Regions from separate parts of the Homo sapiens genome. Here regions 1 and 3 are each linked to region 2. The links come from fine-mapping of genetic effects on gene expression. A gene starts in region 2. Each other region holds a variant in brackets. All regions are shown on one strand. Distances are between the middles of the regions. Region 1 has its middle 20 kb from the start of METTL24. Region 2 holds the start of DDO (D-aspartate oxidase). Region 3 overlaps SLC22A16 (solute carrier family 22 member 16).

Region 1 (4,273 bases), 38 kb after region 2:
TATCCTTGTCTACATGTCTTATTTCAGTAAGGTGGTCTTCAAACTTTGATATCTTTTCTTCTACTTGGTCAATTCAGCTGTTGATACTTGTGTATGCTAAACGAAGTTCTCGTGCTGCGGTTTTCAGCTCCATCAGGTCATTTATGTTCCTCTCTAAACTGGTTATTCTAGTTAGCAATTCCTCTAATCTTTTATCAAGGTTCTTAGCTTCTTTGCGTTGGGTTAGAACATGCTCCTTTAGCTCAGCGTAGTTTTTTATTACTCATCTTCTGAAGCCTGCTTCTGTCAATTCATCCATCTGATCCTCCATCTAGTTCTGCGCCCCTGATGGAGAGACATTGCAATCATTTGGAGGAGAAGGGGCACTCTGGCCTTTTGGGTTTTCAGCATTTTCTCACTGATTCTTTCTCATTATTCTGAGTTTGTCTAGTTTCAGTCTTTGAGGCTACTGACCCTTGGATGGGGTTTTTGTGGGGGCCTTTTGTTGTTGTTGTTGTTGTGGCTTTCTGCTGGCTTGTTTTTTTTTCAATAGTCAGGCCCCTCTTCTGTAGGGCTGCTGCAGGTTGCTGGGGGTTCACTTCAGGCCCTATTCATCTGATTCGCTCCCATGCCTGGAGACGTCACTCAAGGAGGCTGGAGAGTAGCAAAGATGGGTGCCTGCTCCTTCTTCTGGGACCTCTGACCTTGAGGGGCACCAACCTGATGCCAGTAGTATCACTCCTGTATAGGGTATCTGACAACCCCTGTTAGAGGGTCTCACCCAGTTGGGCAGCACAGGGAGCAGGACCCATTTAATGAAGCACTTTGTCCCTTGGTGGAGAAGGTGGGCTTCACTTCAGGGAAACCCACTCATCTGGGCTTCCCAGATTCCTCAGAACTACCAGGACTCCGGAAAGGCTAAGTCTGCTGGTCTGCAGAGACTGGGGCCACTTCTCCCTCTAGGGGCTCAGGCCCAGGGACATCCAAATTCTGTCCCTAAGCCTCTGGCTGGCATTATTGGAGATCCTGCAGGGTAGCCCCGCCCAATTAGGAAAGATGGGTTAGACCTGAAGAGGCACTCTGGCCGCAGACTGCCACAGGTGGTGTGTTGGGCTGTGGGGATAATTCTTGGGACCAAACCACTCAGCCTCCCTGGCTCCAGCAGGGGAAAAGTGCAGCCTGGAGGTATAGAGATGGGTGCCGCTATTCCCCTGCCCAGGAGCTTAGCGTGTTAGGCAGTTGTGAGTCCCAGTGCTGGCTGCTGCCCCGCCCCCAAAGAGCTCAAAGGGCTTAGACAGCAGGCAGCCGCAGCCCCTGCTGGTCACTCCTCCCTCAGGGAGTTTGGTAGGCTTAAGCAGATTCCAGCTGAGAGGCCTCAAAAATCTGCATGTTCCACGGTTAGGATGCTAGGCCCGGTAGCGTGGGTTCATCAGTGAGAACTTCCGATCCGTGAGTTGCACAGTTCTGTGGAAAAAGCACAGTTTCCCCTGCTGGGTAGAGTGCTCACTCACTGCTTCCCTCGGCTGGAGGAGGGAGGCGGTGAGTGAGGGGGCCCAAGGGTTCCCCTTCCCTGTGTGGCTCTCAGGTGGGCTGCCCCACCACACTGCTCTTCTTTCTCTCTGTGGGTCACGCCAGCCTTCTAGTCAATTTTGATGACAGAACCTGGATACCTTGGTTGCTGGTGAAGAATTCATACACTTATTATGGCTTATTTTGGATGGGAGCCTCTCAGCACTGCTGCTTCTAGTTAGCCATCTTGGCCCCCAAGATAATAGATTTTAAAAAGTCAGACCTGTGTCAACAAATTGCTTTGGCCAGAAAGCCTTCTGTTGAGGCTGTTGGCTTGTCTCCGCCTGGCCCTTCCCACACTGCCCCAGCGCACTGCTGTCTACCTGGCCCACCAATAGCCCTTCAGTATGTCGGATCTTCCCCAGGGCTTGCCTTTTCCTGGCACTCACTCAAATACGAGTTAACTTCCCTGAACAAAATCCTCTGGACCAGGGGTCTTCAATCCTGACTGTGCATTAGAATCACCTGGGCAGCTAAAACCAACCCAAAACCAACCAACTGAACAAACTAAAAAACATACCTGGGCCCACTGCCAGACCAAGAGAGTTAGAATCTTTATGATACAGACGGCAAGTATTAGTATTTTTAAAAAATCTGCTCCCACCCCCACCTTGGTGATTTTAATGTGCATCCAGGATC[G/A]AGAACCACAGATTTAGATTTCCAGTCCTGGTTATATATTAGAATCACCTGGGGGGTTAAACATATACAGGTGCTTAAGCTCTATTCCAGACCTCTCAGATCAAAATCTCACAGGGTGGGAACCAGGAATGTCTATGTTTGACAGCTTCTCTGGGAGCTTCCTGATGAACAGCTAGGGCTGAGAACCAGGCCTTAGGCCATGCCAAGAGCATACTCGTGGGCCTGGGCATGGGCATGCTAGAACCTCAGCCACCTGAGCCTCTGAGGAGGACAGAAAACCTGGACTAGGCCAAAAGATGGATGGCGTTGCAGCCCTCCAGTCCAGGTCCCAAAGACCCCTGACCTGGATGCCCACCTCAGTCCCTTGGCCAGTGATGTCCAAGCCTGGCAGTGCAAGGGATGCCCATCATCAACCATGCCCAGGACACTGAATCAGTCATGGCACCGTATTAGTCTGTTTTCACGCTGCTGATAAAGACATAACTCGAGACTGGGCAATTTACAAAAGAAAGAGGCTTAATGAACTCACAGCTCCATGTGGCTGGGGAGACCTCACAATCATGGCAGAAGGTGAAAGGCACATCTCACTTGGTGGCAGACAAGAGAAGATAACTTGTGCAGCGAAACTCCCCTTTACAAAACCATCAGATCTCATGAGACTCATTCACTACCACAAGAATAGCATGGGAAAGACTCGCCCCCATGATTCATTTATCTTCCACCGGGTCCCTCCCACAACACATAGGGATTATGGGAGCTACAATTCAAGGTAAGATTGGGGTGGGGACACAATGCCTAACCAGATCAGACACCAAGGCTGGCATCTGGGAGGCCTGAGCACTTGCCAGCCAGCAGGGCTGAGGCCAAGCTCTGCAGATCTGGCTTATCTGCTGCCTGGGGGTTCTGGTATATCGCTGGTTTCTGTGCCAGAAGTAGGATCCTGTGTTGAACCCCATCTTGTTTCTTTGAGAACTTGAGCCTCTGCTTAGATCTTGCCAACTCCTTTCCTCTTCCTCCCCAGGAGCAGACTTGCTTCTTGTGCCCCAGAAGCACCAGAAGGGATTTTAGAAATATACCTCCTAGGTCCTACTATCTGAAATTCTGATTTATTAGATATGCAATATGGCTCATGATTTAGAATTTTGAAGAAGCTCCTCAGGTGATCATGATGCAAAAAAAAAAAAAGCATTGGAAATTTTGCCTCAACCTAGGATCTAGTCTTCCCTCCCACATTCCACCTCCCCCTCAAAATACTAGGAGCTCCTTTTCCTTAGAGCCACCAATTAGACTGCTTGTCTAAATAGCCAGTCCAGCTGAATTACTCATGCTCCCCTCTCCCTTAATCTGTGGTTTGCCCACGGTGCCCTAGACATGATGCCATAGGATTTTTTTTTTACCTCCTTCCCCCATTCCTGTCTTCCTAGGTTGATCAAGTTTTCTTTTAGTCCTTCCCCTCTCCACTGCCACTAGTTAAGATGTTACACTTCACTCCTTCCCTCTCTCTCTTTCTCTCCCCTCCTCCCTTCCTTCTCCTTTCTCTTTTCCTCCTTCCCTTCCTTCCTATTTTCCTTAGTAGTTAACCTAAATATTTTATATGCATACTTGACTTAAAAGGTGTAAAGTTAACCTCATCATTTTCCTCCCAATCAATATAAGAATCTTAGAATACTGTAATCCCAAGCACCTCTCCCATCTTCTATGTTATTGTTCTCTTATATTTTGTTTCCACTCGTTTTTAAGTCCTCCATATTTGCTATTAAGAATTTTAAAATCTGGGCTTGGTGGCTCACACCTGTAATCCCAGCACTTTGGGAGGCCGAGGCCGGTGGATTACCTGAGGTCAGGAGTTTGAGACCAGCCTGACTTAACATGGTGAACCCCACCTGTAATCCCAGCTACTCGGGAGGCTGAGGCAGGAGAATCACTTGAACCCCGGAGGCGGAGGTTGCAGTGAGCTGAGATCGTGCTACTGCACTCCAGCCTGGGCAACAAGAGTGAAACTCCGTCTCAAAAAAGAAAAAAAAGAATTTAAAAAATCTGTAACTATTCAGATGTAACTACAGCTTTGCTTACATATTCATCACGT
Region 2 (4,273 bases):
AGCTGGTGTCAGAATTGAATTGAATTAGAGGACATGCAGCTGAAGTGTCTGCTAGGGAATCTGCAGAATGGGATGCTTGGTGTGTAGGGAGACAACCCCCACACACCTGGTCACAGAAAGTGTTCTGTATTCAGTGACTGTGACAGTATTGAGCATAGCCAGAGAAAAAGTTGCTTTTCCCCACCACCCCCTCACCGGCCCTCAGACCACCTTACAAAGAATTGTACATATCTCAACTTATCAGAGACCTACAACAACTTGCAAGGGATTCTTAGTTCATTCTCAGTTTTCAGATGGGCAATCCAACTCAGAAGTCAGGTGATTTGCTCAAGGTAAAAATGCAGGTCTCTTGAAACCAAAGTTTGTGTTTTGGTTAAGGGCTTGAGCTTTGGCTGGGCACAGTGGCTCAAGCCTGTAATCCCAGCACTTTGGGAAGCCGAGGCGGGCAGATCACAAGGTCAGGAGATCGAGACCATCCTGGCTAACATGTTGAAACCCCGTCTCTGCTAAAAATACAAAAAATTAGCCAGGTGTGGTGGCGGGCGCCTGTAGTCCCAGCTACTAGAGAAGCTGAGGCAGGAGAATGGCATGAAACCAGGAAGCAGAGCTTGCAGTTAGCTGAGATAGAGCCACTGCACTCCCGCCTGGGTGACAGAGCGAGACTCCATCTCAAAAAAAAAAAAAAAAAAAAAAAAGAGCTTGAGCCTTGACGTCAGATATCCAGACTGGATTTTACCATTTAAGAGACCCTGGACCCTTCCTTACTGTCTTGGAGCCTCAATGTACTCATATACAAAATGGGGATAGTGATAATAGTACCTACTTCATAGGGTGGTTGTGATATATGATGTCATACATGTGTCTAGCACATGGTTAATGCTACATATACATTATTGAAAATATTATTGTCACTAATTTGACACATCACACTGCCTCCCTGGAAACAAACTTGTTAACTGTGCCTCATGCCTAGAGCTCAGTAGACACTCATCAAATATTGAATCCCTTCTTTGAATATGTGGGCTAAATCAGGGATCCCAAATCCCCAGGCCACAGACCACTACCAGTCCGTGGCCTGTTAGGAACTGGCCTCACAGCAGGAGGTGAGCCGTGGGTGAGCAAGCAAAGCTTTGTCTTCATTTATACCCACTCCCTATCATTTGCATTACTGCCTGAGCTCTGCCTCTTGTCAGATCAGCTGAGGCACTAGATTCTTATAGGAGCACAAACCTACTGTAAACTGCGCACACAAGGGATCCAGTTTGTGTGCTCTTTATGAGAATCTAATGCCTGATGATCTGTCACTGCCTCCCATTACTTTCAGAGAAAACCATCTAATTGCAGGAAAACAAGCTCAGGGCTCCCACTAATTCTACATTATGTTGAGTTGTATAATTATTTCATTATATATTACAACGAATAATAATAAAAATAAAGTGCACAGTAAATGTAACACACTTGAATCATCCTGAAACCATCTCCCCATCCCCAGTCTGTGGAAAAATTGTCTTCCATGAAACCAGCCCCTGGTGCCTAAAAGGCTGGGGACTGCTGGGCTAAAGAATCATGTGGTTCTATCCTAGATTATCTCCTGAATAGTGTTTCCAGCTCCAATCAATCAACAACATTACTCAGCCCTCACCCCCTCCTTCCTGCTTCCCCCACCAGCTGACCCAGCAGAGCCAGGCACCCGGCTAACTGTGGGCAGCCAAACGAGGTTGGAAGTTGGACAGGCTCACCCATTATTCACCATACCTACAAATCAGCTGGAGAAAGCCCAGGCTGGCGGCCAGACAGAGGGCTCGTGGGCCAGAAAGGGAAGGGCTTGGCAGAGACAGCGCCATGGAGATGACAGGTTGAGGTCACTTGCTCCTTTCTCCGGGGCAATGGGTGACAGAGACAGCCATGCAGGCCAATGGAAAGGAAGACCAGGGGGAATGTCCTGAATCAAGTCACCAATGGGAATCAGTTTCGCTTTCTCTCTGTCTCTCAGGGCATGAGACCAGCCAGGCACTGGGAAACAAGGTTTGGTGCCAGAGATTTTGGTGGCTTCCAAGACTGCTTTTTCAGAGACAGGTACTTGAATTCTTGCTTTCAGCTGAGGGGTCGTTCCGTCCATGCTCTGGGAGTTTGGGAGTGTGTCTGAATAGGGTCAGGGGACAGTGATGGACAGGCCACTGTGCCAGGACACACCACATTGCTCGCTCACTCCTCCTCCCTGGCAGCTGGTTATTCTTAGCCACAGATTGCTTGCCCTTTCAACTTAGTTTATTAGAGCTGTTTTGAGAGAGTTGCTGGACATGGGAGGCTGATGTGAAACAGCGAAGTCAATAAGGTCACTGGTGGCTGCAGGACAGCTCTACTCAAGCTGGCCCCCACCAGACTGCTCTGGCCTGGGCCCGTTCCCTTCTCTTCCCTCAGCCCTGGCAGGCCCACTCTCTCTCAGCTGACCAGCCCACTGTACAGCAATCAAATTAACGTATCAAATTAGCACAGAAATGCATAGACTGCTCGAGGAATAGGAATATCACACTAAACTTCATTGGAGGGCTTTAAAGTCTCATAGTGCGAGAATCTTCAGAACTGGAAGAGAAAGCAGAGGCCACTAACAACCAAGCCCACGTTTTTCCTGCCAACAGCCCTTGCTGAGGAAGCTGCCCAGCCTTCCAGAGGAAAGGTGAACCTCTGTGTGTGGGTGGCCATGGTTTGTACCATGTGGCCCAGTACCCTGATTACTGTGCTTTGGACAGAGAAGGGCAACTATGCCAAGGGCACATTCAGAGGCTGGTTTAGCCCAGCAAGTTGGCCTGGTGCTAGAATTTTGTCCAACAGGGGATGCAATGACCAACTGGTACAACTGCATTTTCTCTCTCTGGAGTTTAAACCTGAGCCATACAGAAAGAGTCAGAGCAGGAACAGATGGGGAAAGCCAAAAACAGGGAAGCAAAGGCAGGCGGGGATGCTGACAGTGGAGCAAGGCTCCGTGGGTGAGGGGTGGGACAGAGGGTGCCAGCCTCAGGACACCTGGCCCGGGCTCCGGGATGTCTGTCCCCTGCATTTCCATTCAGACTCTCCCAAGGAGCCCCCTTTATGAGACCGCCTCACTGGGTCTCTCTTATTTACCACCCAAAGGAGCAAGTAATCCATCTGTTCTGTGTTACAGATGAGGGAGTGGAGGCTAGGAGACCACGGACTGCTCCTCAGGTTACAGAACCTGTCCAGGACAGACAGGGGGCCGGTGACAGTGGCAGATGGCAGAGGAGACTGAGTTCAGCTGCTGAAACTTTCTGTAATGTCCTTATTATTAGAAACAACTTTGTAGACAGAGTTGAGTTTTGAGTTGCTCATGGGTCATGCCCCTCACCACTGCTCCTCAGGTAGTTCTGGGAGCAAAGACTACAGCTCTGTGGTTTTCTGTCAACCTTCCCTAGGTTGTGCCCATAGGGAAAATGGTTTAGGAAAGGGGGATGAAGCCGGGCATGGTGGCTCACGCCTGTAATCCCAGCACTTTGGGAGGCTGGGGCCGGCGGATCACAAGGTCAGGAGTTCGAGACCAGCCTAGCCAACATGCTGAAACCCTATCTCTACTAAAAATACAAAAATTAACCTGGCGTGGTGGTGGGCACCTGTAATCCCAGTTACTCAGGAGGCTAAGGCAGGAGAATTGCTTGAACCTGGGAGGCGGAGGTTGCAGTGAGCCGAGATCTCGTCGCTGTACTCCAGGCTGGGCAACAGAGCAAGACCCCCTTTCAGGGGGAAAAAAAAGGGAAGGGTGAAGAATGAGTAGAAAACTCCTCCAAATGCAGACCTACTTACTGGCTAGGTGTTCTAAAGGCAAATCCAAGCCAGTTTTGTGTTACTCTCTAAAAGCCCATGGAGATCTTGTTGCTTATACACCAATATTTAATGGAAAGTGAGCTTATGGGGTTATCCTCTTTATCTCACAAGAAACACCAATAGGCTAAGTCTTATTCTGAGTGGCTGAAGACCTAAGGAAAAAACTGTCAAGACCAAACTTTGTCTGGATGGGAAAATCCTTAAAACAAGGGGTATAGCTCCCATTTCCCTCCTCACAGGCTCATGGACACAGCACGGATTGCAGTTGTCGGGGCAGGTGTGGTGGGGCTCTCCACGGCTGTGTGCATCTCCAAACTGGTGCCCCGATGCTCCGTTACCATCATTTCAGACAAGTTTACTCCAGATACCACCAGTGATGTGGCAGCCGGAATGCTTATTCCTCACACTTATCCAGGTGAGAGATTTCAGCTCCTCT
Region 3 (4,160 bases), 57 kb before region 2:
CTTTATAAACAGAAAGGAAAGTTATTGTGATGATTATTTAGTCCTCTCTTTAAGGGATCCTAGTGAAAGTGTTAAGTAGAGCAGTGGTCCCCAACCTTTTTAGCACCAGGGACTGGTTTTGTGGAAGACATTTTTTCCACAGACCTGGTCCCTAACCTTTTTAGCACCAGGGACTGGTTTCGTGGAAGATATTTTTTCCACAGACCTGTGGTGGGGTCGGGAGGATGGTTTCAGGATGGAACTGTTTCACCTCAGATCATCAGGCATTAGATTCTCATAAGGAGCACTCAGCCTAGATCCCTCGCATGTGCAGTTCACAATGGGGTTCACGTTCCTATGAGAATCTAATGCCGCCGCTGATCTGACAGGAGGTGGAGCTTAGGAAGTAATGCTCGCTGGCCGCTGCTCACCTCCTGCTGTGTGGTCCAGTTTCTAACAGGCCATGGACCAGTCTGGTCTATGGCCTGGGGCTTTGGGACCCCTACAGTAGAGAACCCTGATTACCTCTCATTTCTCATTGGTCATTTCTAGAATAAGGAAGCACTATTCTAGTCACCTTTAAAAGGGGAAAACAGGCCAGGTGCGGTGGTTCATGCCTGTAATCCCAGCACTTTGGGAGGCTGAGGCAGGCAGATCACGAGGTCGGGAGCTCGAGACCATCCTGGCTAATGTAGTGAAACCAAGTCTCCACTAAAAATACAAAAAAATGAGCCTGGCATGGTGGCGGGGGCCTGTGGTCCCAGCTACTTGGGAGGCTGAGGCAGGAGAATGGCGTGAACCCAGGAGGCAGAGCTTGCAGTGAGCCGAGATTGCGCCACTGCACTCCAGCCCGGGCGACAGAACGAGATTCCGTCTCAAAAAAAAAAAAAAAAAAAAAAAAAAAAAAAAAAAAAAAAAAAAAAAAAAAGGGAAAACAGGATACCTGAGAAGAACTAAAATACCATTCCAGGATTTCTCCTGAAACCATATCGTTTCCATAAACTTCACAGCTTAAGCTCCATATGAAAAGAAATTGAGAAGACTGAAATTTAGGCACCTGTGTTGGGAGGATCTGAACCTGGATCCCTGAGTTAGTTGTCCTGGGTTAAGAGGAGAGACGGTTTAAAAGTTTAGAGTTGGAATGTGGAGCCTGTGGCAGACCTTCATCAATGGATAGAGGTAGGGTTTTGTTTTGTTTTGTTTCAGTATATAGAGTTTTTCTGGCTCTTTTTTGACTTCAGTGTGTGAACATCATAACATCTATCATTTATATACAGCTACGGTGTGTCATAGAGTGCTTTCCATGTGTTAACTCATTTCATTCCCACAAAGCCCATAGTTTAGATGAGGAAACTGAGGCACAGAAAGGCTAAGGATCTTGCTCATGGTCCCTGGTGGTAAGTAACAGGGCCAAGATCAAACCTTGGCAGTCTGGCTCCAGAGTCCATGCTCTTAGCCATGATGGACTCCACCAGTTATGCTTTTATATGGAATGGTATAATCTAGGACTGAAAGCAGTTTTCTTCATCCGTCACTCAGATTGCATGGGTCCATTCCCTGGGGCTTCTGGCCGCCCTTGCTTTTCCTCGCCTCTGGGTTTTCTGCCGATTGTGTTTGTGTGATTATTTTTCCATTAGAGTGTCATATCTATAAGCCTGTTGTCCTGGTGGACCCCTAGGTTGGGTACATGCATGACACCTCTGAGGGCCAAGAATCTTTGTAAAAGAGAGAGTGATGTGTTAGAATGCTAGACGCCTAAGGAAATGGGGCTTGGTTTTTTTTCAAGAGGTTATTCTTGCAAAAGGGAAAGGGAAATTTGAATTGAAGGAGTGCTTAGGACCTTTCTAGCACATGGAAAGTGTGTTTATGTGAACTAGCATGGCTTGATTGGGGGCCACTTAGTGGTTTATTATTTTGGGGGTATAAAATATGAGAGTGAGAGAGGCAGGAGGTAAGCTTACAGTCATCTCCATGAGTGTTTTTGCAAAGTTTGGGTATCAGAAGTTTGGGTTTTGCAGTGCAGAGGGTGGATTGGAGGGGCAGCGAGTGGGGCAAGGGGGCCAGTGAAGACCTAGATAAGAGCCCAGGTGAGAGAGAAAGAGGGTCTGGAGAGTGGGAGTGTGGGCAGGGAGAACCAGACAGTTTTAGCAGGTGGAGTTGATGGGAGCTCTTGGCCCTAAGGCATGAAGGAGAAGTGAATGGGACCACATGCCCCTCCTAGCCCACCCCATGTCCCATGCCCTGGATTTCTAGTTTGTGTGGGTGATGGTAGCCTAAACTCAGAAAGTTACCCTCCAGGCGGGGCAGGCCTAGATATCGAGCTCAGTTTGAGATTGGTTTACCTTGAGTTCCTTGTGGGAATTCCAGGTGGAGACATCAAGTGGGAAGTTGGGTAGATAATCTGTTGCTCAGGGAAAATGCCCCCTTGTCAATATGGATCAGGTGGCCACCCAGGGCTGCAGTCCAGCTGGACCAGTGCCTTGTGGACAGATTAGGCATGCCTGGCACCTGTTCCAGCTGTGCCTCAGCA[G/A]GGGTGTTGCTGAATAGTTTTCCCTCTCCCTGGGCGCTGTAGATAGAAAACTTTTAAATTGATATATTACATATATGCAGAAAAGTGTCCACCATAATCTACAGCCTGATGAGTTGTCATACAGTGAACACACCTGTGTTACCCCCACCCAAATCATCTCCTCTTATGCCTTCTCCCAAGCCCTACTCCGTCCCTGTCCCCCAAGCTCACTACTGTCCTTACATCAACGATACTAAATGTTACATAAGTGGGGTAAAAGGCACTTGCCCTTTGGCTTCTTTTGTTCCACACTGTGTTTGTGAGATCCACCCATATTGTGTGTCACAGAGGTTAGTCGATTTTCACAGCTACATAGTATTTAATGGCACAAATATTTCACGGTTCATTCATTTACTGTCAACAGACGTTTAGACTGTGTCCAGGTTGGGCTTATATGAGTTGCCTTTCTTGCATTTGTCTTTTAGGGTAGGGTTATATTTTGCTTAACGACAGAGATACTTCTGAGAAGTTCATCGTTAGGTGATTTTGTTGTTCTGCAAACATCACAGATTTTATTTACACAAGCCTAGATGGTACAGCCTGCTACACATTTAGGCTCTATGGTATAGCCCACTGCTCCTAGACTACAAACCTGCACAGCATGTTATTGTACTGAATACTGTAGGCAATTGTAACACAATGGGAAGTATTTGTGTACCTAAACATGGAAAGGGTGTGGTAAAAATATGATATTAATATTATAATCTTATGGGACCACTGTTGTATATGTGGTTCATCATTGACCGAAACGTCGTTTTGTGGCATGTGGCTCTACCTGTGTATGCATTTCGCTGGGTAGATACCTAGGAGATGCTGTCACAGGCGGTGCATGTGGTCCCCTGCCAGAGAGTTTTGCAAAATGGTTATAACAAATGTCACCCTCACAAGCTGTTTATTGGTTTTTCAGTTGCTCCACAACAATTGTCCAGTATTTTGAATGTCAAACCTTGTACCAGTACATAGTTTAACCAGAAAACTAGATATCCTGGGGCAATGTTTTCATCCGTATCAGCATCTCCTAAGAAGCTTCTTAAGCTTGTAGGGGCCTTGACCCCACCTTAGACCTCCTGAATCACGATTGCTAAGAGGGGGACAGAAAAGACAAATCCTAGCTTCAGAGGCCTGCCAGGGTGGGTGCTGTGTTGGTGTATGTGTGTGTGTGCACAAGAGAAAAAGACACAAAGAGAGAAGGAGAGGGGAAGAGAGAGAGAGAATAGTTCTGGTGATGTGGTGATGACTGTGGGGGTCACTGGCTGAGGAAGAAAAAAACTGAGGCCAGGAAGGTAGAAACTAACTGAAGAAGCTGGTAGGATCTGAAGACTGGACGCCTGAATGGTGCTGGAAATGGGGTCAGTGGGAAGGATGGGGGAAGTAAGAGGGTGGGAGGTCATGCTCAGAACCTGAGCTTTTCAGTGGTGGAGCTGTTCCAGGTAGAGACTAGTTAGGGAACAAACCCAAATGCCTCAGGTAAACTTTAGGCAAGTTAAACATGCCTGCTGTTTGCAGGGGCTGTGTTGTCGTTTGCTGAGTTGAAATTTCAGGGATGGGAGTCAAATAATTATAAATATGTGCACCATACGTACATGATTTATGTTCTATTTCCAGTCATATT

Evidence for each region. PIP is the estimated chance that this variant, and not a neighbour inherited with it, causes the effect. A credible set is the group of variants that fine-mapping cannot tell apart.
Region 1: its variant is the best candidate, but not a certain one, in a credible set for the expression of DDO in whole blood (TOPMed, PIP 0.68).
Region 3: its variant is the best candidate, but not a certain one, in a credible set for the expression of DDO in nasal epithelium (TOPMed, PIP 0.62).

The regions. Positions count from the first base shown.
Region 1 is chr6:110,375,754-110,380,026 of GRCh38, reverse strand. No RefSeq gene overlaps it. Among named protein-coding and RNA genes, the nearest start is that of METTL24, 20 kb to the right of the region's middle. The variant G/A (reference allele first, on the strand shown) is at 2,188.
Region 2 is chr6:110,413,270-110,417,542 of GRCh38, reverse strand. It overlaps DDO (D-aspartate oxidase), which reads left to right and starts at 1,968. Exons shown (of 5, transcript NM_001372108.2): 1 at 1,968-2,076; 2 at 4,077-4,252. The coding sequence starts at 4,081. It overlaps LOC105377936 (a long non-coding RNA gene), which reads right to left and starts at 1,899. Exons shown (of 2, transcript XR_942856.2): 1 at 1,756-1,899.
Region 3 is chr6:110,470,239-110,474,398 of GRCh38, reverse strand. The region is part of intron 1 of SLC22A16 (solute carrier family 22 member 16); the gene reads left to right. Among named protein-coding and RNA genes, the nearest start is that of SLC22A16, 4.3 kb to the left of the region's middle. The variant G/A (reference allele first, on the strand shown) is at 2,510.